Homo sapiens: one gene and its partners. The protein of the gene in region 2 interacts with the protein of the main gene of each other region in a biochemical or structural test. Each region holds a gene or a part of one and is shown on either strand. Other genes may lie near its edges. The genes, in order: USP36, EXOSC10 and MPHOSPH6.

Region 1 (10,945 bases), on a different chromosome or scaffold from region 2:
GGTAGCTGCTGTACACAGGCCCCACTCCCTCCAGCTCCATTCCCAAGCACAAAATTCAACAGACCCAGATCCTAAGTCAACCAAGTGACTGCTATGACAAAGGCTTGGGTTATTGACATTTACTTACATACGTGTACAAGACCTAGAGTTTGAACTCGTTTTCTGGGCCTCATCTTTCCCTTCCCTATCTGGTTGATGACTTCGGTGGAGGGAAGGGACGTGACTCCACCCAACAGTGATAAACGCTGCAGAAAGTCATCTCGTGCTCACCACTGCCCAAGAGTTAACGAATGTATGTACCCCAGGAAAAGGTTTTACAGTTATCTAGTGGAGAAGGGAAGAGACTGATTTGGAGGAGAGAAGGGAGAGAAAGGAACGAGATAAATTCTGTGCCAGCAGACAACTAACATTTTCAACTACAGAACATCACACGGTAAACATGGCAGAGGGAACAGTTCACACAGGAATGCAAGTCAACACCCCGAGAAGAAAAGGAACATACCCTGCCCGTGAAGGCATGTGCTTTCCCTTCCAGATAAGTTACAAAGCCAGAGCACGGAAGCCAGGCCCTCATCTTTGAACATTCAGAGACTGGTCCGCAGGAGAGGGCACCCTGAGCAGCTCCACTCACTGCTGCTGGGACACAGGTGGCCACAGGAGCTTGATTCTCTCCCACCCTTCTAAGAAGAGAAACGTAAAAACAGAAGAAAATCCAAAAAGAGACACCCACCCACATGGAAAAAAATAAATGTATCTTCCCATATTAAAAAAGCAATTCCATCTACACGCCAGTAACCACCCAGGCCCCGAGCACAGGGGCAGGAAGCAAAGCTGCCCCAGGGAGAGGGGGTGCAGACAGCGAGGCAGCCACCCGGGACAGCAGGATGCCTCTGGCCCAGCAGAGCCACACTGAAGGAGGTCTAAGTCCAACACCACGTTGTCCATCTCCACCTGCGACGACTCCGGGAGGAAATGACGGGGACAGACCCGATGAGGAAGGATGTTCACGGTCACCTTCACACTTCCCACTACTATGAGGGCATTTGTCTTTTTCCTGAAAATATCACCTTCTCTGAGGATTTCCTGTATTTATTAAGTTACAAGTTGGCAGGCACAGCTTGAGCAACATAGAAAAGTAATCTTCTTGAGTTATACAATCATTTAAATTCCAAAGCACTCACAAAATTGAGCAAACAAAGCCACTATTTGCATATTTGGGAAAGGAAACATATTGCTAATGGAAGCCACAGGACTGGTCAAAAATAAATGTTTTGTATTAAGTAGTAAAATAAATGGAGAATTCTACCCCAAAGCCTCCACCTCAGTGAAGACCTGCGGGTTATTGCAGCTGCAAGGGAAGCTACAGCACAGTCGTCTCAGAATAAACAGCAGCCTGGAAAGCAGATGTATTCGCAGGTATCGAGGGCTCCTCCGACCCCAAATAGCCTCTGCTCTCCAGGACAGTTGAGAGCTACTCACAAGGAAGGGGTGCACAGTAGGGCCACCCTCTCGAGTTCCATAAAAGGGAGAGGTGGCTGGGTGGGGTCACCTCTTCCTTTCTGAGGACAGGTAAGGCCAACAGATGAAGGGGTCCCGCTGAGGAAGCAGGGGAGGGCGGGCTCGGACACAACGGTGGCGTCAGCCCCGAGAAGCAAGGGATGGCTTGCCCAGAGCCACCAGCTATGCACCGGGAGACCACCTGGGGGACATGTGGCCACCATCCCCCACTCTCCTGATAGCCCCAACCAGGGGCAGCAGCCTCTGCCAGCACAGACCACTGTCTATGAAACATGAGAAGGCACAGCCTGGCAAAGATGTCCAGCAGGTGTGCGGCCACCTCTGCTCACACACACACTGTCGTTTCTCTTGCAGGGCTGGTCGGGAATGTCACCAAAGAGGTTCCGATCTAGAGAAGCCTCAAAGCCTCTGTGTTGGGCGGTCTGTGGACACTGGTACCGGGAGAGCTCCTACCGTGACAGGCTCCCAGCGCAGCAGAGCCCACACAGAGAGCTCCCTCAGATCCAGACCGACAGCTCCCGGGAAGGGACGCCTTGTCTCCAGGAGGCTGCAGAACAAACCACGGTAGTCCTGACAGAGAGAAACGAGACCCGAATCTTCCCACTGCCACCCTCGGGTATGAGTCCAACCTAGGAACCCAATGCATGGCATCTCGATGCGGCTGGCAAGAAGTCACCCTTCTGCAAGTGACTGGGACACATGCCAGATATACACACAACCCACATCCCACACACACCCCACACATGCCCTTCTCCAAGTGACCAGAACACATGCCACAGATGCCAGGTGTACACACCCCACACCCAACACACACTACACACACCCCCTTATACACACGCATCCCACACACACCCCCTTATACACACGCATCCCACACACACCCTTCTCCAAGTGACTAGGACACACACCACAGACGCGCCCACACCACACACACCACCCAACACACATGTGCCAGATACACAGCCCACATACATCATACACACACGCCACACCCCACCACACCCCTACACACATACACGGCACACACACCCCCACCTCACCCTTACACCCACCCCCTCGGAACCGACCTCCTTCCACAGGGGCACAGTCAGCGGCGATAGCTGAGGCTGGCAGCCTTTGCTGGGTGAGTCACAGACCAGAAGTTCCGTCGAGTCTGAAGTTTCTGGAAGGCGTTGAAGTTTCTCCTCTTCTCTCTCTTAAATTTTTTAATTTTCTTTTCCTAGACCAAGAATCACAGGCATCACAGTTCCCAAAAACGGCTCTTTCCTGGCCCACGGGGCTCCATGCTGCATGCAGGTCCTGCACACAGGCCGGGCTCTCATGAGCTCTCTGGAGACCCACTCTTCACAATGACCCCTGTGCACGGCGACCTGCAGTCCCCCTATTGACAAAGGGGCGGAAGCTGCGAGGATGCATGCCCTGTCCATGGCCACACGCCCGGACAGGCCTGGGCAGCCTGGCTCTTCTCATGCTCGGCCGCTTCATGCCACTGCCGCCACCTCCAACTGCCCCGGCTCTGAGCTGAGCCACGCCGCCCTGCTCCCTCAAGCCTGTGGTCAGCATCACACATCATACCTTCCCTCGGTCAAACTCTTCGTCCCAGTCATCAACCACGGTCTCAGTCCGGGCCTGTCTGCTGTCTTCAATAGCATCCTGACTGACCGCCGACATCTTGCCATCCCAGGTCAGAACTACCAGGCAGACACGGGGGTCAGCACGAGTGCAGGTTCCCAGGTCCCCTGTGGCTTCACTTCAAGAGTGTCATTTACCAACTAGTCTACTCATAATTAGTCAACAATTTTGAGTGCCACCTTGTGGTGAAGAGAAGGACAAGAGGAGGACGGCTCGACGCCCATGTGTGGTCGGTCAGCATGGAACCCCCAGCGATGCCCTCTTAGCTAAACCCTAAACCACAGCCAAAGAGTTCAGTTCTTTCTAAACCCATGCCCTCGTCTGAGGAACAAAGATGTCATGTTTGGTCTCGAAGTCTGAATAAAAACATGCTCTGAGCAAGAAGTGACATTACCCAGGTTGGAAGAGCTTCGTCACTCTGCCCCTTCCCTACCCAAGACACAGCATGTGTGGGGCTCCTCACCCTGCCCCAACCCTCAGAAGCAGCTGTTCTGGATCCTGCCACGGACAGAAGCCACCTTCGTGCCACGGCTGAGGGTTTAAAGAGGACTCCAGCCAGTGTTGAGATTCCTCTTCCCATTCTCAAAGCCGAGCGATGCCCGCCCGCCACACTCACAGTGCACCAGGATCCATTCCACACCCTTCCCTCCTACAAAACCAACCAATGAAAGGCAAACAGAAGTCCTGTCTCCAAATCAGTACCTTTTCTCCCGTAAGCTTTATCAGATGAGTATTTGAGCAGTTCCTGGACCACATCAGACTCCCGCTCTCCATTCCAAGACACAGGAGGGGCCTGGCTCAGCCCTGCAATCGGAGCAGCCAAGAAACATTTACAGACGTTTAAAATAACCCACTGGGGAAGCAATCGCACACCTTAAATTATAAAACAACTTACAGTAAGTGGATGCTTGCCTTTTTTTTTTTTTTTTTTTTTTTTTTTTAAAGACAGGGTCTCACTATGTTTCCTAGGTTGGTCTCAAACTCCTTGGGACTCCCACTGGCCTCCCAAGGTGCTGGGATTACAGGCATGAGCCATGGCGCCCAGCCTAAATGCTTATTTACTAATGCTTACATGCTTAATTTACTAATGACCTGACACAATAGAGAAGGCTGTTGTCCAAGTCAATTCATGAGAAAGAAAACATGGAAAATAACAAAAAGCTAAAAACCAAAAAAAAAAAAACCCTCCAAAACCCCTTTAACCAGTAGTGTTAAGTCCTCAGTCTGACAGAAGGAGAGAAGAGAACTAGATCTAAATGGAATCCACCTCACCTACGGGAGAGGCCCATGCCCCAGGACCAGCCTGACACCTGGATGGCCACAGGGGTGGAGGGAACGGCCAAGCTTGGCTGCTGCCATCAGGGGCCCGACCTCCTAAGCCCTGTCCAGGGGGAACCTGGTCCCCATCAGCAACACCGCACAGGTCCACCCAGCACCTCGGGACCAGGACAGCACTCACCACCCTCATCGGGTTCTAGAAACCCTTTCTGAACTCGTCCTCTGCCCAGCTAGCCACATAGCCCCTGGAATATACTCACCTCCCTTCACACAAATCTGACCTCATTTCTCCCTGCCTCCAATTCCTCAGTGAGCTCCAGGCTAAGTGTCCCCTGCCCCCACACAGTGGCTTCCATGGTTCCCATCTCATCCACACAGCCCAGGGACCCGGCCATGCAGAGCAGCCTGCCTGCTCCCAACGTGCTGCGCCTCCTGCCCTTGGGTCTGGTGCCCTGCCCATTTAGCCACTCTCCTCAGGTGCACAGGACTGCAAGAGCCCATGCGGCCCCCAGCGCCTCCTTGCTGAGCATGAGCCCTTACTGTGTGGTTCTGGCTCTGCCAGGGAGCCCCGAGGGCCCAGGGCGCACTTCAGTAGACACAACCAGCACCTGGCATGGACCCTGGCGCACCGCAAGTGCTCAAGTGATGTCCCTTGCACTAACAAGCCAACTCCACTTCGCTCCGAGGGTGGCACGGAGCACAGCTCTGGTGCCATGTTAGGGCAGTATTTTTTTTTTTTTTTTTTTTTTTTTGAGACGGAGTCTCACTCTGTCACCCAGGCTGGAGTGCAGTGGCGCAATCTCGGCTCACTGCAAGCTCCGCCTCCTGGGTTCACACCATTCTCCTGCCTCAGCCTCCCGAGTAGCTGGGACTAGAGGCGCCCGCCACCATGCCTGGCTAACTTTTTGTATTTTTAGTAGAGACGGGGTTTCACCGTGTCAGCCAGGATGGTCTCGATCTCCTAACCTTGTGATCCGCCCGCCTCGGCCTCCCAAAGTGTTGGGATTACAGGCGTGAGCCACCACCCCCGGCCAGGGCAGTACTTCTGAGAGCATGCTGGCCAGCAAACTCAGTCGGCACTAGCTAGCACCCACGTTTTGCTATTTATTTCATACCATTTCATTTTTAACGATAAATTCCTTTCTTAAGAGTTGGATAAATACAAATCAGTCTCTAAGGTCCTGCTGACCCCCAGATGCACTGCCATAATCAGACCTTCCAGACTGCAGAGGAGGCCTCACTCAAGCTCGGCCCCCTATACCAAGCAGCCAGGACTTTCTCTCCCCTTCACTTAACAAATGTGTTCTGTGGCGGGTGCCTGCCAAGGCATGCCCCAGCCAGCCCTAAAGAAAACAAAACACCCTCCGATTGAGGGGTGGTGCCCAAGGACAGCCACAGCACACAGGTCCCCAACAGCAAGCAAACCGTGCTATGTTCTGAATGGCCCAGCTACATAGAGGGAGAGGAGGATTCACTTTTGAACCCAACTCTTCTAAATTCAACCATCACAGAAAAAAACTCAGGCTGGGAGTTCAGGGAGTCATTCCGTGAGAAGCTGTAGACAGAACAGCTTTGAATCGGAAGACCCACTGGCATTCACAGAATGTTTTAAAGTTCATGTGCACTGTAACCTCTCTCATGGGGCTGTTTCAGTCAAATGCTGTGACACATGAGGAAGCTTCAACCCCATCACCCAAGGGAGCAGACTCGGGGGTGGGGGGTGAAGGTTGGTAGGGTCCCAGGGCCCTCCACATCTTCTCCCAGACCCTCCCAAGCTCAGATGCAGTAGACGCTGCTCTCAGCCTGTGCACTCCCCAATACCCCCTCACCCGGTGCACACCCACGCGGTCCCCCACCCCCTTGCCCGGTGCACACCCACGCGGTCCCCCAACCCCTCGCCTGGTGCACACCCACGCGGTCCCCCACCCCCTCGCCCGGTGCACACCCACGCGGTCCAACCCCTCGCCCAGTGCACGCCCATGCGGTCCCCCAACCCCTCGCCCGGTGCACACCCATGCGGTCCCCCAACCCCTCGCCCGGTGCACACCCATGCGGTTCCCACCCCCTCGCCCGGTGCATACCCATGCGGTCCCCAGGACACCAGCCATTCGCGGATGGTGCGCAGCTGCTGGACTCGGGGACAACAGCATCTTGGGGCTTGGCACTCCTTGGGCATTTGAGATGCCCATCCTCTTCTACTGCCCGCTGTGTCTCCTGCTTTCTTTTTTTCTTTTTCTTTTTCCTTGGAGACTCTTCCATGGCCTCTGGATCACCATCACCCATGGGAGAGCAGCTGCTTGGAAGTGAGAGGCAGCAGTCAGCTCTGAGCAAATTGGAAGGGGAGCAGGAGCGCACAGACACCCGCCTGCAACATGGAGAAGGTGCCACCCCAGCTGTGACCCAGTGCACGCAGGTCCCTGCAACATTCTTCCCCCCACACGCATTAGCGGACGCTCCACACGCAGCCACGGAGACAGTAGAGGGAAAACCAGTCGCGTTTCCCATCCTAACTGAGCCAAGCCTGTTGACGCCAATGTGCAGGCTACTGTGACCTGATGAAACGGCAGATCCTGGCCTGGCCCGGGACACCTGATCCAGCATCCTTGAACGGCCCTGCACATACAATGATGGACACTACTGTCCACACCACTGTCGCTTCAAGGATCAATCCACTGGTATTTATCAGAGGAGATATTTTTTCTTTTTTCTTTTTTTTTAGACAGGGTTTAGCTGTCACCCAGGCTGTAGTGCAGTGACGCGATCTCAGCTCACTGCAACCTCCACCTCCTGGGCTCAAACCATCCTCCCACCTCAGCCTCCTGAGTAGCTGGGACTATAGGTGCATGCCACCATGCCCAACCAATTTTTGTTTTTGGTAGAGAAAGGGCTTTTCCATATTGCCTAGGCTGGTCTCAAACTCCTGGGTTGAAGTGATCCACCCGCCTCAGCCTCCCAAAGTGCTAGGATTACAGGTGTGAGCCACCACACCCAGCCAGAGGAGACATCTGATCACAAATCCACATTTTAGAAAACCACGCAAGCAGACTACGTTTCCAGACCATACCTACTTGGGGGTAGATTCTGTGGTTTTGCTTTGTTTCTCGTCAGAGGTAGACAGATGCCACTTTGCTCCTGCCCTTACCTGTGCCGAAGTGGGTCCTGGTGCAGGCCGCCTTCTTCACCAAGACCTTCTGCTCCTTTCCTCCTCCGCTTCCTGCTGCTCGCGTGGTGGCCGTCCGTAACACATCCCACCTGCTGGCCATTCACCTGTGGCTGTGTGCCATCTTCCTGCCGTCTGACAGCGGGCAGCTGTGCCTGGCCCTCCCTCCTGTACATGGGGCTCCCAGGCTGTCTCTGTGTCTGCCCCTCCTGCAGGGCGCTGGCAGCTGTGTCCTCCGGGCGCTTCTTCTTCTTCCTCTTCCTCTTCCCGTGGGGAGCCGCAGTGGCCTCCCTGATGTGCTGTGGGAGGCGCGTCTCTGAGCCCAGCCTCTGCGGCTCTCCCACAAAGGTCTTTTTCCTCTTCTCAGAGGGGCTCTGGGGGGGCTCACTGGCCTCTGGCAACTGGTGTGGAAGAGACACAAGGTCCTCGTTGACCTGAGGCAGCGCCGTCGAGATGGAGGAGCAGCTCCGTGGTTCTGACGTCCCTGGGGGCTTGGGGGTACTGGACAGCAATGTGGGGTGGGGGCTGAAGGGGGGTTGCAGGCGGCTGGATGATTGGGGAGCAGGTGACACAGCCCTGTGGGGACAGCCAGGAAACAGGGAGAGGATGTTCTGAAAGACCCAGCAGAGCTGTTCCTTCTGTCTACCCTCACTCCCCTCCCTTTCACCTAAAAATCTGAAAAGGCTTTTACCCTGTAGTTTTCAGATACACATTAAGTTACATGTATGTTTGAAAGAAAGCTAACAATTAATTCAACATCTATTTAAATGCAAAGTTGGCCAGGTACAGTGGCTCATGCCTATAATTCCAGCACTTTGGGAAGCCAAGGTGGCTGGATCACCTGAGGTCAGAAGTTTGAGACCAGCCTAGCCAACATGGTGAAACCCCATCTCTACTAAAAATACAAAATTAGCCGGGCGTGGTGGCACACGCCTGTAATCTCAGCTAGTCAGGAGACTGAGGCAGGAGAATCGCTTGAACCTGGGAGGTGGAGGTTGCAGTGAGCCGAATCGCGCCACTGCACTCCAGCCTGGGCGACAAAGCAAGACTCCGTCTCAAAAAAAAAAAAAACCAAAAAAACAAAAACAAAAACAAAAAAAAAAAAACAAAGTTACCTAGGTGGTGGGTTGATAGGTGCAGCAAACCACCATGGCACCTCTGTAACAAACCTTTACATCCTGCACATGTACCCTGGAACTTAAAATAACTGATCCCTGAGATTTAAAAAAAAAAAAAAAAAAAAAAAAAAAAGCAAGCCAACACGTGATTTTAAAAGTCAAAAAAAAAATTTTTTTTTTTTTAAAAGGCAAAGTTAATAAGAATTGTTCCATGCCTTAGTTTCTTGTCACCAAGCAATTCAAGTATTTTTGCGAGCTCTAATGTAAAAACATCTTTAATACAAATGTGTTAAGGGAGGAAACCTTCACGAAACAATAAATGGTAAGGAAAAAAAAGATCCCGTGAGGATTTATTTTCCAACCTCCGAAAGTCTCAGGGTGTTCCCGGGCAGGAAATGAGCCTCATAAGGAAAGCAAGTGTTGAGCTGGCCTAATGACACCTCCACATTACCGTCATTAGGACGCTGAAACCGGGACACAGATGCGTAGAGCAGAATCATGAGCAAGGCGTGTCCGGGACAGGATCTAGTGCCGAACCCAGTGAGGCTCCCTCTTGCCAGCTATGTGTCTCTAGGAAAATTAACTTCCCACTCTGAACCACCATGTTCTCATTTGTCAATGAGCTGGGACCACAAAGCCCACCTCCCAGGGTTCCTGCAGAAAACAGGACCCCCGTCATCATCTAAACAAACTATAAGGGCCATGCCAGCTGCACGATGTTTGATTACTCTAAGTGTCTTCTGGAATCTTTTCCAAAAAAGCTTATAAGGCAAGAAACGAAAAACACCCAAACACTTAAGGCCCTCCCACGTACACAAATCTTATGCTAGGTATAGGGCAGAGGTGTGCTTGTGTGTGTATATGTGAGAGGAGAGTAAGGCAGAGGCTGTGGGCGACGCACAGTCATACCTCGCCCTCATGTAGCACTGGAGATTCTAGAACTAGAACCCAGCGCCGAGGCCACCAGTACAGTCCCCGCAGGCCGCCTCATGACTCACCCCATCTTTCACTGCTTCCGTCCCCACTCCCAGCGGCTTCCAGACAGCCATTTACCAGTTACTCTCAACTTCCTGCCACTCGAGGCACCTAAGAGACGCAGGCAGCCCCTGCGGACCAGGGCCCACATGCACAGGGAAGGGGCTGCATCTCTGGCAGGTGTCTGCAGAGGAACCCGAGAGCCCTGAGACAGTTCTTAACCTGCATGACGCTAGCAGGCAAGACGTCCCACAAAAAACGCTCGGGACTCCGAGCTCACTCAAGCCTCTCGCCAAGGCCTCACTTCGCCTTTCTCTTCGACTGGGAAGTACTGTCATGGGGCTGGTAGGGATACAGGACAGGTCAGTCCCCAGCACACCACATCACCACAAGGATGTCGCAGACAGACCACCAACAAAGACAGAACTAAGACATCAGGACTGCAGAGGCCGAACTGCCTTCACCACCCAAAGCTCCTTTACCACAGGGGAACACAGAAGAGGGGGATCTTGGTCAGTGACGCCCCCCTGTACCTCCTGGCTGCCCCAATGCTTTGTCTGTCCTGTGAGGTTGGCGATTCGTCCAACTCCTCACCAGCCAAGCACACGCAACCACAGGGAGAACCAGTTGGCACCCAGAAGATCCCGGCCCAAAGCTTACCTGGCTCTATGGACGGGCCAAGTGGAGGCAACGACGGGGTGAGAGGTTTTCATGGGGTGGGTGAGGTCGGAGGATGGTGAGGGGGGAGGTGGACGGAGGTCATTGCCGGTCGCCCTCCACAGGGTGCTGGCCTGCAGTTATCGACATAAATAAAAACTTGGTGGTCTAAAAAAGGTTTCCGTGAGTGAAGAGGGAAAACAAAAGTAACAAAAAATGAAAATAAAAACAAAAGAGCCCAGAAAAAAAGATGAGGAGACAGAAGAAGACAAAAAGGGGAGGTGAGGGGCAGGGGAATGGTAGAAGAAGAACCAGAAAAGTATTTTTGGTTAGAAACAAAAAAAAGGAAGAAAATTTAAACAAAAATCTCAGCACAACAATCACATCCACGTGCCGTGGCTGCCCAAGCTTCCTGCTGCAGAGGTGCCGGGCACCCCACTGGGGCTCTGCGCTTCCTGCCCGCCCCACCCCTGCTAGGGACACGTGCTGGTGGGGCCCACCCTCCCTCGGGTTCAGTCAGGATCTTCCACCTACTGTGAAAACAGGGAACTGCTACCTTGCCCAAACCTCCATGAGTCACATGAGCATCACCAGATCAGGGCTCTCT
Region 2 (10,945 bases):
CTAGAAGTCACCATAACCCCCGGAGCACACTCACCTGCCCACAGACAGCTGAAGATGGTTGCCTGAACAGGATGGCAACCTGCCAGAGCTGTGGCGGCAACAAAATAAAAGTCAGGAATCAGCTTTCTTCAGGAAGAATTTTAATGGTTTAAAAATATGTATGTACAAAAGCAGCACCAGCATTTGGTGCTTCCGGTCCACAGGCGCCACGTGTCTTCCAGGACTATCTCTGTGGCCAGTTGTACCTGAAGCCTCTGCAGAGAGTACAAAAACAACAGTTATTTCTTCCGGGCTGGTTGGATGTTCTCAGATGGTTTACAAAATGGTGCAAATCTTAATCATGCAGAACAGAGGAAGAATGGTTTGCTCAGGGGCCCCAGAGAACTCGGCGGCCCACCAGAGTTGGCTGAGCTGAGCAGCATCTTGAGAAGGCAGACCTGTTTTTCCTGCCCTCGGGCAAGTCCCCTGACCTCAGGGTCGGCTTAATTATTAGGATTTTATGTTTTTAACAAAAACATTTGGCTGGGTGCAGTGGCTCACACCTGTAATCCCAGTACTCTGGGAGGCCAAGGCGGGAGGATCAATTGAGGCCAGGAGTTTGAGACCAGCCTGGCCAACATGGCAAAACCCCATCTCTACTAAAAATACAAAAACAGGCCGGGCGCGGTGGCTCACGCCTGTAACCCCAGCACTGTGGGAGGCCGAGGCGGGCGGATCACAAGGTCAGGAGATCGAGACCATCCTGGCTAACATGGTGAAACCCCGTCTCTACTAAAAAATACAAAAAATTAGCCGGGCATCATGGCGGGCGCCTGTGGTCCCAGCTACTCGAGAGGCTGAGGCAGGAGAATGGCGTGAACCCGGGAGGCGCAGCTTGCAGTGAGCAGAGATCGTGCCACTGCACTCCAGCCTGGGCGACAGACCGAGACTCCATCTCAAAGAAGAAAAAAAAAAAAAACATTAGCCGGGCATGATGGCAGGCACCTGTAATCCCAGCTACTCGGGAGGCTGAGGTGAGAGACTTGCTTGAACCCAGGAGGTGGAGGTTGCAGTGAGCTGAGATTGTGCCACTGCACTCCAGCCTGGGTGACAGAATGAGACTCTCACAAAACAAAACCAAACCAAGCCAAACCACTCTTCAACAACAAGGATAACCCACATGTGCTTACTTTTTCCTCATTCCTAATAGGCTGGTCCAGGAAAATTTCACAACTATTTACACCTATTTTCCCTGAGGTGACCCCAGGACACACGGTAACTAGAGAGCCAGGAACAAGGGGAATCTGAGTCCTGGGGTGCAGTGCCTGGCTCTGTGATGTATGGCACAGAGCAAATCACCTCCCGCCCTTGTTTTCCGAGTGGCGTGAGGGACCTGGCTGTGGGAGGTTCTCTGAGTCATCCTGGTTGAAGACCCCTGGACACTCGCTCCCCAGCTACTCCCCACGGACCACACCACGCAGGGCAGGTGCTTTCTCACTGGGCTCCCTGGGCCACACCGCCGTCCACCACATACCTGTCTGACTTTCCAGTTGGAAAGGACATGCTTTTGTTTCCCACCGACTGTTTAATTTTTTTGGCTGCAATGCATTTCTGAAAAGAAAAGAAACCGTTTAAGCTGGGTGGGCACCTTGACCACAAGATACACAGAAAAACACACCTGAGCTCAGGTGGCCAAAGATTCTAGCAGCACAGGAGTGACTTTAGATCCCCTGAGAGAGGATGTTTCTGTGTCTCTGAAGGCAAGGCCGCCAGGATGCGCTGCAAGAGGAACAGGAGCACCCCAAAGCAGCCCTGCCCCCGCGCCTGTGGAAGCTACAGCCACGCTGTTTCCCTGGCACCAGCACCAACACCCACGAGGGGTGAATGCAGGCTTGTGCTGGCCCCAAAGGGGGTGCTTTTGGCCTGCAGCTATAGTTCCCATGGTAGCAAACACAGAATAATACCCTTTAAAGCCACATGCCAGCTTTTACAGCCTCGTTTTATGAGTTGCTGGGGTAGCTGATCAGTACTGTCTGCCCTTGGGAAGAAATGAGGTGAGGAAAAAGATATGCAAAGGAATGGACTCCTGGATGGGCCTGTCTTCTCAGCAGAGGAGGAGGTCAGAAACAGGCGCCACCAGCGTGCTAAAATCCTCCAGGAGCAGTTCTTACCTTGCCAGACGGGGTCTGTTTATTTGGATCAAACTGAGAAGAAACTTTGGATTTGCTGTTTCCTGAAAGGTAAGAGATGAGAGAGACCTGCGGTCAGGTCAATGAGTTACCACACATCACAGGCTCACAGCGAGGCCGGGACCATGACACTCAGGGAAGCCTTGGCTGTGAGAGCACCCCTGTCACGATGAGGGGCTAGGGCTCATGGCTCACATAAATGAATACATAGCGATCCTGGTCCCTGTGGGCAGTCTGAAAACCAGGCCCATTTCTCTCAGCTCTAGTCCCAGGACCTTAGGGGCAGGTGGCTACAGCAGTGGCCCCCGCACATAAGGAAATCCATTCTGATCTCTGTGCTGGGTGATGCCATAAGGAACTCGGGCTCTGAGGCGACACTCCTGTATAAAGGGCCATTGTGTGGACTGGCCTCTGCTTTCTCTTTTCCAAAGGAGCATGTTGCTCCGAAGGCTGCTAGAGTCGAGAATGCCATCTGTAGCCCCTTCAAAGCAGACGGACTCTCACAGCCCAAGCAGCCATAGGGGTTCATGTCATAGGCTTTGAGATTTTTCAACAAACAAAATTCTGTGTGTGTGTGTGTGTGAGAGAGAGAGAGAGGGTTTATGGGCACAAGTTATAGTGAGGAAGGATGGCGCCCTGGTCACAGTGGAAGTGACAGGTGATCTTGCTAACCCACCATGGAGGCCACCATGAGTTGAGCTCCCATGGAGGAGGTGGTAATGAGGCTGCAGGCGACTGTCCACATTGCCACGGCCTCTCTGGACTACTCCAACAATTCCTGGCTAGCACCATGCCTTGTGCAGGACTCACTTGGCCCCTATATTGTGGTCTCTTTATGGCTTCCTCCCCTCTGACGCGCACAGATGTCCCTGTATGGGGCCCCATTACTTCCTCACCAGCAAAAGCCTTGAAGTCTGACTGGCTGTAGTCGTAAGGCGTAAACTCTTTTTCTGGTGGCTCTGGGTCCTTTGGCTTCTTGGAAATTTTGAGTCGTTTCTTCTCTTGTTTCTGTTCTGTGGTCCTTGGGTCGCTTGTTGCTCGCTCTCTCTTCTTTGCAGCATTTTCTAGCTGTAGATCAGGAACAGATGTGGGGGAGGAACAGGGAGGCACATGGGAACAGGGAACTCCACCGGCCTCAGCAATAGCTGGGACCCAGCTGCCTAAGTGGTAAGAAGAACAGTCAGTGGTGGGGAGAGGAGCTGTGGCTGGAACTTCGGGACCAACACTCAGGGTCAGCTGAAACAAATTCCTCACTGGACAATGACATGAGGTCATTTAAGAAAGGCAAGCAGGCCAGGTGCAGTGGCTCATGCCTATAATTCCAGTGCTTTGGGCGGCCTAGGTGGGAGGACTGCTTTAGGCAGTCTGAGACCAGCCTGGGCAACATAGCAAGACCCCTATCTCTACAAAAAAAAAGAAACAAATGTAGCTGGGCATGGTGGTGCGTGCTTGTAGTCCTAGCTACTTGGGAGGCTGAGGTGGGAGGATCACTTGAACCCAGGAGTACAAGGCTGCAATGAGCTATAATTGCACCACTGTACTCCAGCCTGGGCATCAGGGTAAGAGTAAGACCATGTCACTATTTTTTTTTTAAAAGGAAATTAAAAAAAAAAAAAAAAAAAAGGAAAGGCAGGGGGCAGGGGTTAAGAATTCGAGTGATAGCCTGGGCAATATAGTGAGACCCCGTCTCCACCAAAAACAATAACAAAAAATAGCTGGGAATGGTGGTGTGTGCCTGTGGTCTAGCTACTTGGGTGGTTGAGGAGGGAGGATCGTTTGAGCCCAAGAGTTTGAGGCTGTAGTGAGCTGCAACTGTGCCACTGCACTCCAGCCTGTGCAACAGAGGTAGACACTACTTCAAAAAAAAAAAAAAAAAAAAAAGAGTTCCAGAGTGCTCTGGGGTTTCATTCTCTAGAATGCAACATTTTTGTAGGACACAGCAGGACACACAACAAGCTTCAGCACTGTAACCTCAATACCTTTTCTACTACTACAGTTGAGTGGTCTGGCATATTTACCATAAACACAGTGGAAGAAGGTTAAGAGGAATTACAATATCAATCTTGTGGAGGTTTCGGAAATGAGGTAGACACTAATAGCCAAGCTAAGGTGAACCGGAAAGAAGTCAGGACTTAATATAAAGCACAGGGCAAGCCCCCTAAGATATCCAAGGAAGATCCTGACCACAAGCAGGGGCATCGTTTTTCAAAGGAAAAAGGAGAAAAGCTGGCACATACCACGACCTGCTGTCGGACGGAGATGGCCTGTTCTGCTGCAGCTTTGCACGCCTCCTTTGCCTGTTCCCGGGCAGCTGCAAGGGAGAGAACTTGTCTCTGGAGTTGGTGAATCCAGCAACCACCCTCCCCTCCATCTCCATCCCCCTCCGACTTGGCCTAGCCACAGGGGTTGTCACGGCTGATTCCTCCTCCCTCTCAGGTCCCCGGTCCCCCATCTCTGCAGGACAGGCTGCCTCAGAGCTCAGGCTCAGGTGCTCTGCCCACCTTCAGCTACACGTGAGCTGATCCTCCCCAGCCCTGCCTGCTCCTCTTCTGTGAACCTAAATGCTCAGTGGCCTGTGGACCTGAGGGCGTTTAACAGGATCGTCACCATCACCATCGTGGACAAACCTGCTCAAACCAGCTACTTTGGCTGCCAGCAACTCCAGCTTTCCAGCTGCTCAGGACAAAACCTTCATCCAAGGTTCCCTTCCCTTTTCTCACATGCCACATCCACCTCATCATCAAATGCTGTCAGCTTTGCTATGGGACAGATCAAGGCTCTGACAGCTTCTCACCACCTCCTCTGCTCCCACGCTGGTCTCAAAGCCACCATCCCCTCTCGCCTGAGCCACTGCCATGTCTCCTATCCCTTCCTGGACTCCCATCCTGTCCTCTATAGTCTACTGTTGACACAGCAGCCAGAGTGCCACATGTCAGTCACTTCCCCCCGTCTGCTCAGCACCCTCCTGGCTTCTGAACTCAGAGTAAAAGGCAGCGTCATCCCGTGGGCCTCTGCTGGCTCCTTCCCCATCTCCTGCTCTTCTCTACCCGCTCTGCTCATGCAGGCCCACTTGCTGCTGCTCAGCATGCCCAGTGAACTAGCCCCAGGGCCTCTGGGCTCGCTGTGCTGTGGCTCCAGAACTCTTCTCTAGGTCACTGCAGGTCTCGTCAATGTCGCATTCATTAGACTGCCTTCTCCAACCACCAACGAGACAGCTACAGCACCTCCAGCACTCCCCACCAATCTCTCTGCACAGCACCTGCTGCCATCTGCCAGGATAGATACTGATTGCCCACCATCCCTCAGCAGAAGGGAAGCCCCACAGGGGCTTCATTCATCGCCGTATCTGGCACTTGGCTGAAACAGCGGGTGTGCAACAGCCATTCTTTAACAGCCGACTGAGTTGCAAGGAAGTGAGTGTTACCTGTTTGCTCAGCTGCCTTCTTCTTGACAGCTTCTTTAGAGTCTTTTTGTACTTGTACCTGGGCCAGCTTCCAGCGGTTGCTGATCTATAATGAAAGCAAATATAACAAAAAAAACCCTCCAAAGTCAGCCACCTAAGTCTGTCTTACTTTTCATGAGGTGACGAAGGGCAGGTTAACCTAAGAAGTACACACATTCTAAGTCATAAATTTTCAAATCTAAGGGCATGAAAAATAAATTTCATGCTGGCTTTATTGCTAAAATCCCTATTAAGGACAAAGTGCTACTGTCCTCCAGGCACTGGGCCATCCATCATCTCATTCAATCCCTCTGTAACCCTGGGAAAAAGGTACTGTCATCACCCTCTCTTTAGAGATGAGCAAACAGACTCCGGGAGAGTAAATAACTTGTCCAAGGGACATGGTCAGTAAATGACAGAAGCAGACTCAAGGCTGGGCTTCCGCAAGTCTGCTGTGTTTCTTTATGACACCCCACGGACCTATGGCGTTACAACACATGGAGGTGACACTGGGCATAACACACAGGACGTGCAGTTGTTCAGTGTGACATAACCCGTGGGGGGAAAAGAGGAGAGAAGGCAGAAGCCCCACCTGATTCCCCATTTCCAAAAATAGCAAGCTAACTCAGGGACAGGAACGGGGCTGGGGGACCTCTCGGTTTTGCCTAACAAAAGAGCTCTGCTGCCACACAGAGGAAGCCAGTCGCCCATGTCATCAGAGCAGACGCTTCCTAAAGGGAGGAAGGAGGCTGCGAACAACAGTTCACGTTCTGGCTCTGGGGAACATCTCAAGAGGGTCTAGGGGAGGTGTGCTCTCATTCTTACTCATAATGCTGGTAAAAACAAGCCAGATAAGTAAGATAGAGTGTTTTAAAATTAAAGCTGTCACCTTTAAGAGCCTTAAAGTAACAGACATCTATAAAAATGCATCAAGCTGTATATTTAATATTTGTGTACTTTACTACATATAGATTAAACCTCAATTTAAAAACCGCAAATGAAGATTTGTTTCTTACAAAGTTTCCAAGTGCTTTTCTTTTTCTTTTTTGGCTAGAGTTCGCTCTGTCGCGCAGGTTGGAGCGCAGTGGCGCAACCTCGGCTCACTGCAAGCTCCGCCCCCCAGGTTCAAGCGATTCTCCTGCCTCAGCCCCCCGAGTAGCTGGGACTACAGGCGCCTGCCACGACGCCTGGCTAATTTTTTGTATTTTTAGTAGAGACGGGGTTTCACCATGTTAGCCAGGATGGTTTCGATCTCCTGACCTCATGATCCGCCCGCCTCGGCCTCTCAAAGTGCTGGGATTACAGGCGTGAGCCACCATGCCCAGCCCAAGTGCTTTTAAGAATCTCACTGAAGTTCTGGACCCTTTCCCTAGAAACAATGCTAGAAAATAAAGGGCTTTTGCATTCATTTTCACGGGATTCACAGATGAGATAGGCTTGTCTAAAACAGAAACCTGGTATGAATAATTAAGAAATCCCCTTTTCTTAGAAAGTCTCTTTTAGGGCCAGGCGCAGTAGCTCACGTCTGTAGTCCCAGCACTTTGGGAGGCCAAGGCGGGTGGATCACCTGAGGTCAGGAGTTCGAGACCAGCCTGGTCAACATGGTGAAACCCCATCTCTACAAAAATTAGCCGGGCATGACAGCAGGTGCCTGTAATCCCAGCTACTTGGGAGGCTGAGGCAGAACTGCTTGAACCTGGGAGGTGGAGGTTGCAGTGAGTCAAGATTGTGCCTCTGCACTCCAGCCTGGGTGACAAAGCGAGACTCCATCTCAAAAAAAAAAAAAAAAAAAAAAAGTCTCTTTTAGAACAGGTGACAAGTCCACTTACTTCATAGATTTTGGTTGATGGATCGAACTTCGCTGCCTGAGAGACGGGAGCACGGTGTCCCAGTGAGGGCAGAAACTGGAGGAAGGAAATGGCTGTGTGAAACGCTGCCGGGAACGGAATCTAGAGCCACGGGGCAGAAGCGCTCAGATGGGGGGTTGCTGGTGCCTTGTCAGCGTCTTTGCCAGGACACCAGGGCAGCCGACACACTGGCTTCAGAGGCTTCCTTCCCAGGTAAAAGCATGTACAGCTGTAGGCATCTCTGCATATCCTGTCAGCCCTGACAAAACTACTACTCACCATCCTAAATGGATTTTCAAAGGACTCCATGATGTTCTGGGCTTTTTTCTGTGCAACTGTCAATGGACCCTTTTTACTGTCTTCAGCACTAGGTTCCTGCAGGGACAGACAAAAAACGATCACTAATGACCATGATCATCTGTGACATCAAGATGCAAGCAAGAGAGCAACAGTTAACAGTGATTTTTTTTTTTTTTCTGGAGACAGAGTCTCGCTCTTTTGCCCAGGCTGGAGTACAGTGGTGTGATCTCTGCTCACTGCAACCTCCACCTCCTGTGTTCAAGCGATTCTCCTGCCTCAGCCTCCTGAGTAGCTGGGATTACAGGCACGTGCCACCATGCCCAGCTAATTTTTGTATTTTTAGCAGAGACCAGGTTTCACCATATTGGCCAGGCTGGTCTTGAACTCCTGACCTCAAGTGGTCCACCCGCCTTGGCTTCCCAAAGTGCTGGGATTACAGGTGTGAGCCACCGCACGCACCCGGCCAGTAACAGTGATATTAATACCAATGGCTAAGGCTAATTTTTCATACACTCTCTTATGTATAAGGTGTTGTGTCTGCAACAGCACACAGTAGCATTTCAATATCAATGTGCTGGATCAGTGAATTCTCAGCATGTCCTCATAGCCTATGAGGTGGTATTACTCTCACCATCTTACAGAGGAGGAAACTGAGGCCTACAGAGGTTGTGACAGTCTTTCAGAGGCTTGCAGTGAATACAAGCAGACCAAGGATCTAAACCCACCATGGTCTGGCTCTAGAACATGAGGTCTTAATTGATGCCTGAAATTTATTTTATGTATGTATGTATTATTTTTTTGAGTGGAGTCTTGCTCTGTTGCCCAGGTTGGAGTGCAGTGGTGCCATCTCTGCTCACTGCAACCTCCGCCTCCTGGATTCAAGTGATTCTCCTGCCTCAGCCTCACGAGTAGCTGGGATTACAAGCGTGCGCCACAATGCCCGGCTAATTAAAGACAGGGTTTCACCATGTTGGCCAGGCTGGTCTCAAACTCCTGACCTCAGGTGATATGCCCGCCTTGCCCTCCAAAAGTGCTGGGATTACAGGTGTGAGCCACCACGCCAGGCCTGAAATTTAGTATTACATATCTTTATAGGGAATCATTGAAATTATGCAACAAAATGCTGCTTCCAACTGGGTTCATAAATATGTGCTATCCTTTTGCTTCATCTGTAATTATGCGCCCTTGCAACACAAGAGTGCAGGGAGACCACAGCCTCCTTTACACCAAACAGCACTTCCGTATCAAAGCAGCCCAGAGCTCATGCTAACACGCTTAGCTGCTAAATCATCTTCATGACTCAAATTAGCTCTGAGGTCAGCTAAAGCGCCTAGTATTTTCTCATTAATTGCTAAAGCAAGGCCCAATCTAGATTTATGTAATTAAGTTAAAAACCAAAGTGAAGCCTGGGCGACATGGTGAAACCCCACCTCTACAAAACATACAAAAATTGGCTGGGCATGGTGGCATACACCTGTAGTCCCAGCTACTCGAGAGAAGGCTGGGGCAGAGGGATTGCTTGAGCCCAGGAGGCAGAGGTTGCAGTGAGCCAGGATGGTGCCACTGCACTCCCACCTGGGTGACAGGATGAGATCCTGTCACAAAAAAAAAAAAAAAAAAAAAAAAAAAAAATGCCGGGTGTGGTGGCTCATGCCTGTAATCCCAGCACTTTGGGAGGCTTAGGTGGGTGGATCGCCTGAGGTCAGGCATTCGAGACCAGCCTGGCCAACATAGTGGCCCCATCTCTATTAAAAATATAAAATATTAGCTAAGTATGGTGGCGGGCGCCTGCAATCCCAGCTACTAGGGAAGCTGAGGCAGGAGAATCGCTTGAACCTGGGAGGTGGAGGTTGCAGTGAGCCGAGATGATGCCACTGCACTCCAGCCTGTGCAACAAGAGCGAAACTCCATCTCAAAAAACCAAACCAAACAAACAAAAAAAGTGAAATAGCTGGGCACAGTGACTCATGCCTGTAATCCCAGCTACTCAGGAGGCTGAGGCAGGAGGATCGTTTGAGCCTCAGAAGTCAAGGCTGCAGTGAGCCATGATTGTGCCACTGCATTCCAGCCTTGGTGGCAGAACAAGATTGTCTCAAAAAAAAAAAAAATCATTTCTCTTCTTCACTGAAAGCACACATATGTGGTGCTGGGGTCAGGCAGGAAGCTATGGGCAGCGCACATTCTACAGTTCATCGGACAGTACACCCATGCCACCCCTGCTGGGCATCCAGGTGAACCGTTTTTCCTCCACCACCACTGCAGCTTGTCTGGAAAGCCCTGCTTGTATGTTCTCTTAGCGCAGGCCCTCCTCCCACTAGGTGCTGTTCAACAACAGGACGTCAGCCTTTCCTGGAAGATTTCTTCACACAGAGCTCAAGAGAATCCCCCATCCACGTCCCCAGACCACCTCCTCCAGAGTGGTCAGTGCCACCTTGCTCATTGGTCTCTATGCCTCTCCCAGCACTGCTGGGTTTTGCTCTCAGCATTAGTCTCCGAGTGTATGCAATGCTCCAGGCAGACAGCCTGCTGAATAAATCCAGTAAATCCCAGGGGGTCCTCATCACCTCAGTGAAGTTTCTGTGCTACTCACATTAAATAACGTGATGACAGCTGTGGCAATCAGGCATGTGGTACCCAGCAAGTTATCTTCTTTTTCATCAGGGAAGAGGCTCGCCTGCTTCTGAACTGGCACAGATCCTAGAGGAGCAGAAGATAGTAAGGTCAAAGCCTACAGAATTTTGTTTATTTTTTCTTTTTGAGATGGAGTTTTAGTGTAGTCCCCTAGGCTGGAGTACAATGGCACAATCTCGGCTCACTGCAACCTCCGCCTCCTCGGTTCAAGTGATTCTCCTGCCTCTGCCTCCTAAGTAGCTAAGATTACAGGTGCCCACCACCATGCCAGCTAATTTTTGTATTTTTAGTAGAGATGGGGTTTCACCATGTTGGCCAGGCTGGTCTCAAACTCCTGACCTCAGGTGATCTACCCGCCTCAGCCTTCCAATATGCTGGCATTACAGGCATAAGCCACCACGCCCGGCCAAGCCTACAGAATTTTAGACAAGGTAGCTGTGTCCCAACCTCTTCGGGACAGTCAGGAGGGCTCTCGACTTTACCACTGGTTGGGATGATTGGATAGCCATCCGGAGGGGCATGGGAGCAGTCGTGAGGTCCAAAGAGAACATTCTCCA
Region 3 (9,508 bases), on a different chromosome or scaffold from region 2:
CTTTGAATCTGCCACAACCTGCCCTTTCGGCCATTTAGCATCCACAGACTTCTAACCTAAACTTCCTGCAACAAGGAAAACAACTGTTTCTACCGAATACACTGCAAACATCCTTTGTACAAGATACCCTCAGCCTTTCTCCAAAATGAGGAGACACAAAGTCCCAGCAGACATTCTATCAGTTAATTACACCTAAAATTAATCACAAACCCACCTAATATTCTTACCCTACGACTAAATAGCGAAATTAACGCCCTAAGAAAACAAAATAAGGAGGTAAGAGAAGAAATTAGTACACACACATACACACACACACACACACACACACACACGCAGAAGAAAACAGTCATCCCTGGGTATCCAAGGACTGGTTCCAGGACCTCCTGCAGATACCAAAATCCACAGATGCTCAAACCCCTTACCTTAGACAGCATGTTTGCATATAACTTACGTGCATCCTCCTGTATCCCTTAGACTACCTCTAGATGATTTATGATGCCTAATACAATGTCAATGCTATGTAGTTGTCATACTGTATTGTACTTTATATTATTTTTTATTGTATTTTTATTTTTTGAGTACTTTCTGTGGTTAGTCAAGTCGATATCTGGAACTCACTGATATGGAGTGCCAACCCTCCATGTAACAGTTGCAGTAACTTGTTTCTGTAACTGGCTAGTCATAAGGCTGAAATAATAAATTTCCTTCTTTCCTTACACATCCCATGGTTCCTCTTCCCTCAGCCAGTAGCTCAGCTTCTCAGGATTTATACGGGGTGGGGTGTACCAAAACATCATTCCCTAAAGGACCTCAATCATTCCCCTCTTTGAGACTGTTATAGCTGTCCCTTAGAAGTTAGTGGCATACATGGGAAGTGCTAAAAATGCCCTAGAGAATCCTTGGGTTCCAGATGCCTTTCTCACCATCCACTGTGTAGGAACGACATAAATGCCCCTTTGTTGCCAGGATCACTTGCACCAGCCAAAACAGTAACCTCCAGCCCGTTGGTTCAGTGCTGAAATGACTGGATAGTCTCAATTCCTGTCTCAATGGAGCCATTGTTGTGTCCCCTAGCGGGAGCACTCCTCCCTTGGGAACTCAAGAGAAGCAGGAAACAAATCACCCATGAGTGGGACCACTCCATCTACCTCTGCTTGATTCCAGACCGTGCATTCTGACCAAGAACAGTCCCATGGAGTGGTCACTCAATCAAAGCACACGTTACATTTGTCAGATGGAGTTGTATTCCACCTAGGGCCATAAATGTGTCTTCAGCAGACCATTCCATCGTCCTATTATGCCCGCTATTCCTGGGTGATGGGGGATATGCTAAGACCAGTGCACTCAAGAGGCATAAGCCCCCATTACCCCACTTCTTTTATGGTGAAATGAGTTTGTCAATCAGAAGTCGACTGTGCAGACAGGTACATAAGACACGTAGTAAGTCCGGTAGTAAGTCCGTGGATTGTGGTGCTGGTAAGGCACTGGGAAGAACTCGTTACTTCCCAGAGTTGGGAGGTGCATCATTCTCATACTCACAGTGAAAAAAAAAAAAAAGGCCAGATTAACTTCAAAGTCCTATCTTTTCTCATAACTCACCAGAGAACTGAGGTCACAGAGCAATAAAACCTTCCTTACAGAGATTTGAGGAGAGAGGAGACATGTACCTCATTCACTTCCTGGGAGCGAAATTAAATCAGTAGTTCTCAGAAGTCCTAGGTACTTATCTGCAGACAGAAAGACAGACACACATACACACACTTAATTCTATGTGCTTCTTTCTGTACTTAGCATTTAGAATAGAGTTCAGACTAGGAGATGGTACCATTGGTCAGTGGTAAATTCTGTTGGGTTATACCGTAAGAAACTAAAGGTTATTTTTGACCTGTAAAAGGCAATTTCTTATGGTTCAACCTAATACATCACTATATTCTGATCAATGGCTGTTTTTTAAAGTTATTATTTGGAAAAAAGTTATATTACTGAATTAGACTAAAATTGTTATTTGAAAGTACAAGAAAATATAAAAAGTATGTGAAAGTAGATTTTTATTACAGAGCAAATTTTTCTATCAATTCAATGCTTTAAATAAAACAACATAATACCATAAACTGACAATGACCTGGGAGCATGTAAATACTTAAGGCTGGAGAGGCATTTTTATTCTTGATAAATTTATATAATAAATTCTTATGACATTTGATTCCAAATTGTATGTACGAATTGGCTTGACATAATAAATATAAACATAAGGGCAATTTAAACATTGGCAGTAGTTTATGTAAGTCAATTCAAGGTCAGTGACTGGAGAACTATATTAAGAGAAACCTGAGGTAAAAAAAATCTTTAGGAAGCAGCCCTGTAACAATGTACATTTGTAGATCAGGGGCTAAAAATCCACTCTGAATGAATACCAAGAAGCAAAGGATGTACAACATCCATCACACATCTGTTTCAAAAACAGCATGTTTCTAAAATGATAATCTCTTTACAAGTAAACGTTACAGTATTAATAACTATAGAGACACCATTGGGATGAGCTCCAGATGCCCTGCTGACTTCCACCAAGCACCCCTGGGCCATCGCTTAAGGCATCCATCTTAATCCTGGGGCTTTAAGAACATCTTCTTTGCTTTAATTGGTGTTATGTCTCCATTTTCATCTTCTTCATAATTGGCATGGTCTCTCTTTCTGGCAAACTTTTTCCCAATTGTCCCCACCAAGGTCTCATATCTGTCAAGAGGACAGGCAGCACACGTTTAATTTCAAATAAAAAGGTAGGGATCAAGCCTTGTCAAGAATATCAGACCAAATATGCAATAAAAAAGATTACGAAAAAGAAAACTATCATTAAAAGAAACCATCTGATTTAACAATTTATGAACTTCTCTAAGAGTGATTAAATTCCTTGCCATTTTGGTGTTTGCATTACCCTAAATAAATAGAGATGTACATTTTAAAATACACATTTCCAGCAGCTCTGGAAATGGGCCCTCAACTGGCAGCCTGAGACAGGTCTGTGGCCCCCGTAGGCCATTAAGAGAAGGCCGATCACAGTCATCGTCCTACTGGGGGACTCCCTTGAAAGCTGCCGTGCACTGTGGGGTAAGAGGAGCATTCCTGGGAGAGCCAATGAATGCTAGGTCCAGATTAGAAGGCTGCTGCGCAGCACGGTTACCTTCTAGCCATCTCTTCATCTGACACATCAAGCTCTACTGTTTCATCTTCAACTTCTTCTGCTTTGTGCTTAGCATTCATCTGAAGCATCAATTTCTGAAAAATACACCAGTGCTGACCTTCAGGCTAGAAAACGCTTGTGAAAGGAACTGATGTCAAACTTACCTGAAGGCAGAGAAACTGAAGTCAAATAATCTAGAGAACTAGTCAAAATTGATAAGGGACTCTCTGTAATACTTGATACCACAATGGTGTAAGAGAAGTAAGCTCTGAGTCAAAAAAATAGTAAGGCAAAGCCCCACTGAATTATACTTAGGGTGAATTTAAAGTGTATTTAAGATCATAAATCTTAGTATTAGTTACTCATATTTAAAGCAGGCATACTGCTGACACATTCCGGTGAGTGGGGGAAGAAATAATAAACTTTCAGATTTTCCCTGAACTTCCCCCACCCATCTTTAAGCCATATGGAAGAAACACTAGTCGTCAGTAATAATTTTAAATGCATCTCTTGGTGGTGGTGGTGGTGAGTGGAGGAGGTGGGAGAAGTGGAAGGCTGGCCCTGTTTAATGGAGGGAATCTGCACCTCAGCCTTACCCTCCTAAACTTTAGAGTGGATAATGCATCCCATGTAACATCCATGCACCACAGGGTCTCTCCTCCAACTCTTTCACATAAACCTTTTTGTGATAATTATCCTCTGACCTTTTTTTTTTTAAATGTGTAATCTCTTCTTTTTAGCAAGAGGAGAAGGAATAAAAGATGAGAAATCAGTCTTAACTAGTTTTTCTAAGGCTTAAAAGAGTGATAATAGTTTAAAACCTTTTCCTAGGGGGAGTGTATTCAGTGTTTCAGAATCCAGTAATTAGGGCCATTTTCTAACACCCGTCCCTGCCCCCCATCAATTTCTGCGGGCAGTGGCACCTCTCCTTTCCCATTGCAGCAGACATACTTTGGAATGCTCGCCTATCCAAACCCTACTCTTTGAATACCACATCTTCATAATCCCTGCCTTTTTCTTCCCTCTTCACCCCACTGCCCAGCCCCTCTCCTTCTCAATCTGAAGCTTAATTAAAGAAAGTCAAAGCGAGACCAGCATATATTAAAAACAAACACTTCTAACATAACACCTTAATTATCACACATGCCTCCTCCCACTCCGCCAAAAAAGAAAAGGAAAACTAACCTAGAATCTTTCAATAAACTCTGGCAATTGGCTTAGTTAACTGTGGCTCCTAGAGAAGTGGTTCTTAACTGGGGATGATTTTCCCCACCAGGGAACCTGTGAAAATGTCTGGAAACATTTTTGGTTGTCACAGCTGGGTAGGAGGGTGGGGTGTGTGTGTGCTACTGATATTTAGTTGGTAGAGAACAGAGGACAGGGATGTGGTTCGTCATTCTCTTAGGAAAGCCACCACCACAAAGAATTATCTGGCCCCAAATGTTAACACTGCCAAGGGCAAGAAACACTGGCTTCAAGTAATATTTACCAAACTAAAGATTTATATCTCATGTGTCCATTTGGTTCATCAAGTACTTGATAGGATGGCTTTTAACATATGAGCCAGAGTTCTAATGAATATTTGTTAAATAAAGGTCTGCTTCTCTATCCTGGAGCAGGAAAATTCAAATGAATAGCTCAGTTATAAGGCAAATATTCATTTTTCAAACAAACTGTCGAAAGGATTCATTTAAAAATCTACTTACAAGCTTGGATTACAACAGTCCATTAAAAAGTCAAATGACATAATTCTAAAGTAACATTTTTCCGTTAGAAAAAATACATGTATAGGTGCCAGAAAATAACTTTTCATAATAGCATGATATGAATAAAATCTTGACGTTCCTGTAAAAGACACAACTTGAAATTTTAATATTTATGGTGGCTCTGTCAAGGGCTGTATACTGCTATATGAAATTATCTACTCACCTCTACCATAAAACTAGACTGCAATGCCTCCAATTTCTTTAAATAGCTATGGCGATATTTCAAGACTTGTTATTTTCTATATAATGAGTAGAAATGGTACCTGGTGGAGAAACACCTAAGCCCAATTATTAGCAGAAAAAAATTCAATTGGAAAAATTTTTAATTTGAAGCAATTATATTTAATACCTCAACCTCAGGATTAAATCCTCTGAATGACATTCTTCCATAGAGAAGATCTTCACATAGTAAGAAACTCTGCTCTTCTATTATGAAACTCCTAAATGGGAAAATAAAAATAGCATTTCTCCATATATAAAGCACAGCAAACAAAAGCCAACACTTTGAATAAAAAAAATAATCAACCTATGGTTCTCAGTAGAATGAAGTAAAAATACAGTAAGATTTCTAACTTAGGGTTAAAAATAAAATCTGATTAATTTGGTCAGCAAAGGCATTAGGAGACAAGAGCAGCAAGCTAGAGGCACAGCCTCTCTTAAACACCACATTTAATTTGCATAAATATCTACATAATATAAAGATCTAAAGTATTGACAATAAACTTGAATTTGCCAAAGTTGAAGCAAAGTTTCTTTTGTGTTTACATCCCCTCACCATATTTTTTTCCAATTCTTTTTCAGAAAGGAAATAATATGTATGTAAAAATACACATACAGTATACAGTGACACACTACTCCAAATCATTTTAATAAAGTTTCTGGCATATTTTGTCTTTCGTTCTCAGGGATTTCAAAAATTCCATTCTCTAATTATCAAAGCAGCACATTTTAAGGAACGTAATTTGGAAAGCAGAATAAAGTATGAGTTTATAAACTGCCTGTAAGCTCCTTACCAAGAGGATAAAAAGGACTGTTAGTATATTTGAATATTTCCTTCCAGTCTTTTTTGTACTTGCATTTACGTTGATTCTTGAACACAGGTCTGAGCTGTGTGGTGCACTTATACACAGATTTTTTTCAAAAAATTTCAATAGTTTTTGGGGAACAGGTGGTTTTTTGGTTACATGGATAAGTTCTTTAGTGGTGACTTCTGAGATTTTGGCCCCCACCAAATTCTTATTACAAATCCAGGAGAAGTAGTGGGAAATCAGAGGCTTGAGCAGCTTTAACAGTGTTATCAGTCAGAGCTCTTAGCTATAAACACCAAAGGCTGACCCTGGATGACTTCAGCAGAGAAGGAATTTACTGTAAGAACACTGTAGGCTCTTCATTTCCAAGGGGGACTGGTTCCAGGACCCCTTGTAGATATCAAAATCTGTGACACAAAGAGCCAGCTGTACTGGGCATCTCAGAATCACCGGGAAGGCTGAAGGGGCAGAATTGGAAGACGGGCAGAAATAACGGTCGCTAGGTGGTTGCACCAGAACCAAAATCATGCTAGAGAATGACCCTAGGAAAACCACTGTTGCTGCTGACGGGGCTGAGCACGACACCACTGATGGCATTGGGGCAGGTTGCGTTCCCTGGACCAGGATGTTTCTGTCTGCAGCAGAATTTCTCTGCTGAGTCACCACCACATGACCGTAAATCCAAGGTGACATATCTATCTCCAGCCTGGCCATAAACCCTAAAGCATGGCAGGAAAGCAAACATGTGGCTTTTAAGGCTTGTTTGCCGGAGTAGGCTCTGATTCTCATAAAGATTCCCTTATGCAACAAACACTTATTAAACCAAACTGTGTGTATTAAATCAAACTGCGGAAACAGCCACCAGTAAAAGAGCCTCAGCTGGGCACAGTGGCGGATGCCTGTAGTCCCAGTTACTCAGGTGGCTGAGGCAGGAGAACTGCTCGCATCCCAGAAGTGGAAGTTGCAATGAGTCAAGATTGTGCCACTGCACTCCAGCCTGGGTGACAGTGTCAAACACTCACCTCCAAAAAAAAAGAAAAAAAAGGAGCCTCTGCTCTCCTGGAGGTTACAGTCTATAGAAAGAGGGGCCAAATAATGAATGAAACATGAAACATTTATATCACACAATGGATGAAAATAAAGCAGGTTATTCCATCCCTAGCTGTAGGGGAGTAATTGGTATGGAACTAGCTTTCCTGCACCATAATTATATAAAACAGGACAAAATATAAAATGACCATTTTCAGATAATGAACAAATCCAAGCATATGACTGTGATGCCTGAGAGAAGAAAATCAAATGAAGTAGACCCCATGAATGCGGAGCTTTCTGCCTGGAGGCAATTTCCAGATTGTGGAGCAGGGAGTGGGGGACTCACACAAAACCCTGTCTTGCTGAGCTTAAGAGACAAACTGTTTCATTGGGGCTTTAGTTGAAAAAAATAAAGGCACAAACTGAAGTTTGGGGTTATGGTGGTGGCTGGAATATCTGGGTGAGGATACCACTGAAAGGGAGCTACACTATGGAATTCAGGACCTGCATACTGGGTTCCCTTGAATCTTTGGCTGACCATGAAGCTGCACATGTGCAGGATGAGTCTTTAGACTTAGGGAAAAAGTAACTGCTGGAGAGATGATTTCTGGGAGAACACCTGCTGCATTAGCTTCCTGTGGCTGCTGTAACAAATTTAAGCTGACAAAATTGGTGGCTTAGAGCAACAGAATTTATGCTCCTACAGTTCTGTACAAAATCCAGATGTTAGTAGGCCTGGGATCCCTCCAGAAGCTTCCACGGTTACAAGGCCTTCTGTGTGTCAAATCTTCCTCACCTCTCCTCCTTATAAGGAAAAGTGATTACATTTAGGGCCCACCCAGATAATCCAGGATAATCTCTCATCTAAAGATCTGTAATTTACTCATATACCAGCAAGGTAAATTTTGCCACATAAGGTAACACTCACAGGTTTCAGAGATGAAAACCTAGATATTATCTGGGAGACCATTTTCCAGCCTACCATACCTGGGGAAAAAAAATTTACCCTGCAATTGCATGTTGAAGAAATAACAGAGCTTGCACAGAGCAAGGAAATGTTTGAGTTCTGCCTAGCCAGAGAGGAGAGAACAAGCTAAACACTCTGTGATATTTAGTAGAAAGGCCACACCTTAGGAGTAGAGACAATTTAGCTACAAAACACACCCTAACAAAATCAAGCTGATTGGCATGTAAGTCAACTGCCTAATGAAACAAAATTCAACACTCTATTAAGAAAAATAACAAAATCCAGGTAGTCAGCAATGTAATACATACAAATGTACAGCACACAATAAAAAATTCCTAGACATGCAAGGAAGCAAGAAAATGTAATCCCCTCATAGAAAGAAAGAAAACAACTGAAAATGAAATTAGTAGAAATGGACTTTAGAATAGTTACTGTAAATTTATTCAAGGATTTAAACGAAAACATGCATGCAATGAAGAAAGAAACAGAAAGCCTGAATTAAGAAATAGAGACTGCAAAAAAACACCAATAGAACTTATATAATTAAGGGAAAAAACAATTTAAAAAAATAAATTATATAACTGAAAAAAAAACTGCAGTGAAAAACTGGATCAGTCCTATATCTATCAAATAAATGGAATTCATTACTAAAAATCTTTTCACAGAGAAAGCTTCAGATCCAGATGGCTTCACTGGTGAATTTCACCAAGCATTTAAGGAAGAAATAATTTCAATTTTACACAAACCAAGAACTAAGAAGAGGAGGTAGGAACACTTTCCAACTCATTTTATGGCCAAAACCAAAGACATTACAATAACTCTACAGTCTAATATCTTTTTTAAATATAGATGTGAAAATCATCAATAAAATGTCAGCAAATTGAATTTAAAAATTTTAAATGTTACATATGAAGACCAAGTAGAGTGTATGTCAGAAATACAAGGCTGTTCTGATATTCAAAAGTCAATAGTTTTCAACACATTAACAAAATAAAAATCATGATCTTCTCATAAGAAATTATTTGACAAAATTCAACATCATTTATGATGAAAACCCTCAGCAAACTACGAAAATAAAGGAGTATCTCTGACCACTGATCAGGGGCATTGACGAAAACAGCACTTCATGTGTAATAGAGAGAAAGTAAATGCTTTCCCAACTGTGATCAGAAACAATTCAAGGACTACTCTTGTCGTTTCTATTCAATACTGTATTGGGTCCTTAGCCATGAAATAAATCAACAAGAGGAGATAAAATGTATAACTGTCTTTTTTTGCAGATGACATAATTATGCATGTAAACAATCTTAAGGAATCCACAAAAAAACTACTTGTCAGTGAGTCAATTTAGCATTACAGAATACGAAGTCAACGTACAACCTTCAATTTCTACACACCCCTCCACCCCATACATACACACAACAAATAAGTTTGAAAAAACTCTATTTATGATATATAAAACTATGACAGACTTAGAGATAAACAATGCAATAAGCAAAGAAAATTTTTTCAATAAATGTTAATAGGTGCAGTGGCT

The links.
Region 1: the proteins of EXOSC10 (region 2) and USP36 form a complex in vitro, tested with the Homo sapiens proteins (one study listed by BioGRID).
Region 3: the proteins of EXOSC10 (region 2) and MPHOSPH6 form a complex in vitro, tested with the Homo sapiens proteins (one study listed by IntAct).

The regions. Positions count from the first base shown.
Region 1 is NC_000017.11:78,795,815-78,806,759, forward strand, and holds part of USP36 (ubiquitin carboxyl-terminal hydrolase 36), read right to left. Parts: intron 10,507-10,945; coding exon of another isoform or gene 10,473-10,506; coding exon 10,342-10,472; intron 8,165-10,341; coding exon 7,571-8,164; intron 7,042-7,570; coding exon of another isoform or gene 6,722-7,041; coding exon 6,510-6,721; intron 3,955-6,509; coding exon 3,853-3,954; intron 3,210-3,852; coding exon 3,094-3,209; intron 2,738-3,093; coding exon 2,606-2,737; 3' UTR 2,586-2,605; intron 2,089-2,585; exon of another isoform or gene 2,066-2,088; 3' UTR 1-2,065. UniProt on the Homo sapiens protein: Deubiquitinase essential for the regulation of nucleolar structure and function. Required for cell and organism viability.
Region 2 is NC_000001.11:11,066,495-11,077,439, forward strand, and holds the end of EXOSC10 (exosome complex component 10), read right to left. Parts: coding exon 10,871-10,945; intron 10,455-10,870; coding exon 10,348-10,454; intron 7,833-10,347; coding exon 7,737-7,832; intron 7,515-7,736; coding exon 7,440-7,514; intron 5,678-7,439; coding exon 5,593-5,677; intron 4,495-5,592; coding exon of another isoform or gene 4,480-4,494; coding exon 4,406-4,479; intron 3,237-4,405; coding exon 3,065-3,236; intron 2,213-3,064; coding exon 2,151-2,212; intron 1,591-2,150; coding exon 1,514-1,590; intron 255-1,513; coding exon 224-254; 3' UTR 124-223; downstream 1-123. UniProt on the Homo sapiens protein: Catalytic component of the RNA exosome complex which has 3'->5' exoribonuclease activity and participates in a multitude of cellular RNA processing and degradation events.
Region 3 is NC_000016.10:82,146,131-82,155,638, forward strand, and holds the end of MPHOSPH6 (M-phase phosphoprotein 6), read right to left. Parts: intron 5,385-9,508; coding exon 5,294-5,384; intron 3,274-5,293; coding exon 3,179-3,273; intron 2,734-3,178; coding exon 2,601-2,733; 3' UTR 2,032-2,600; downstream 1-2,031. UniProt on the Homo sapiens protein: RNA-binding protein that associates with the RNA exosome complex. Involved in the 3'-processing of the 7S pre-RNA to the mature 5.8S rRNA and play a role in recruiting the RNA exosome complex to pre-rRNA; this function may include C1D.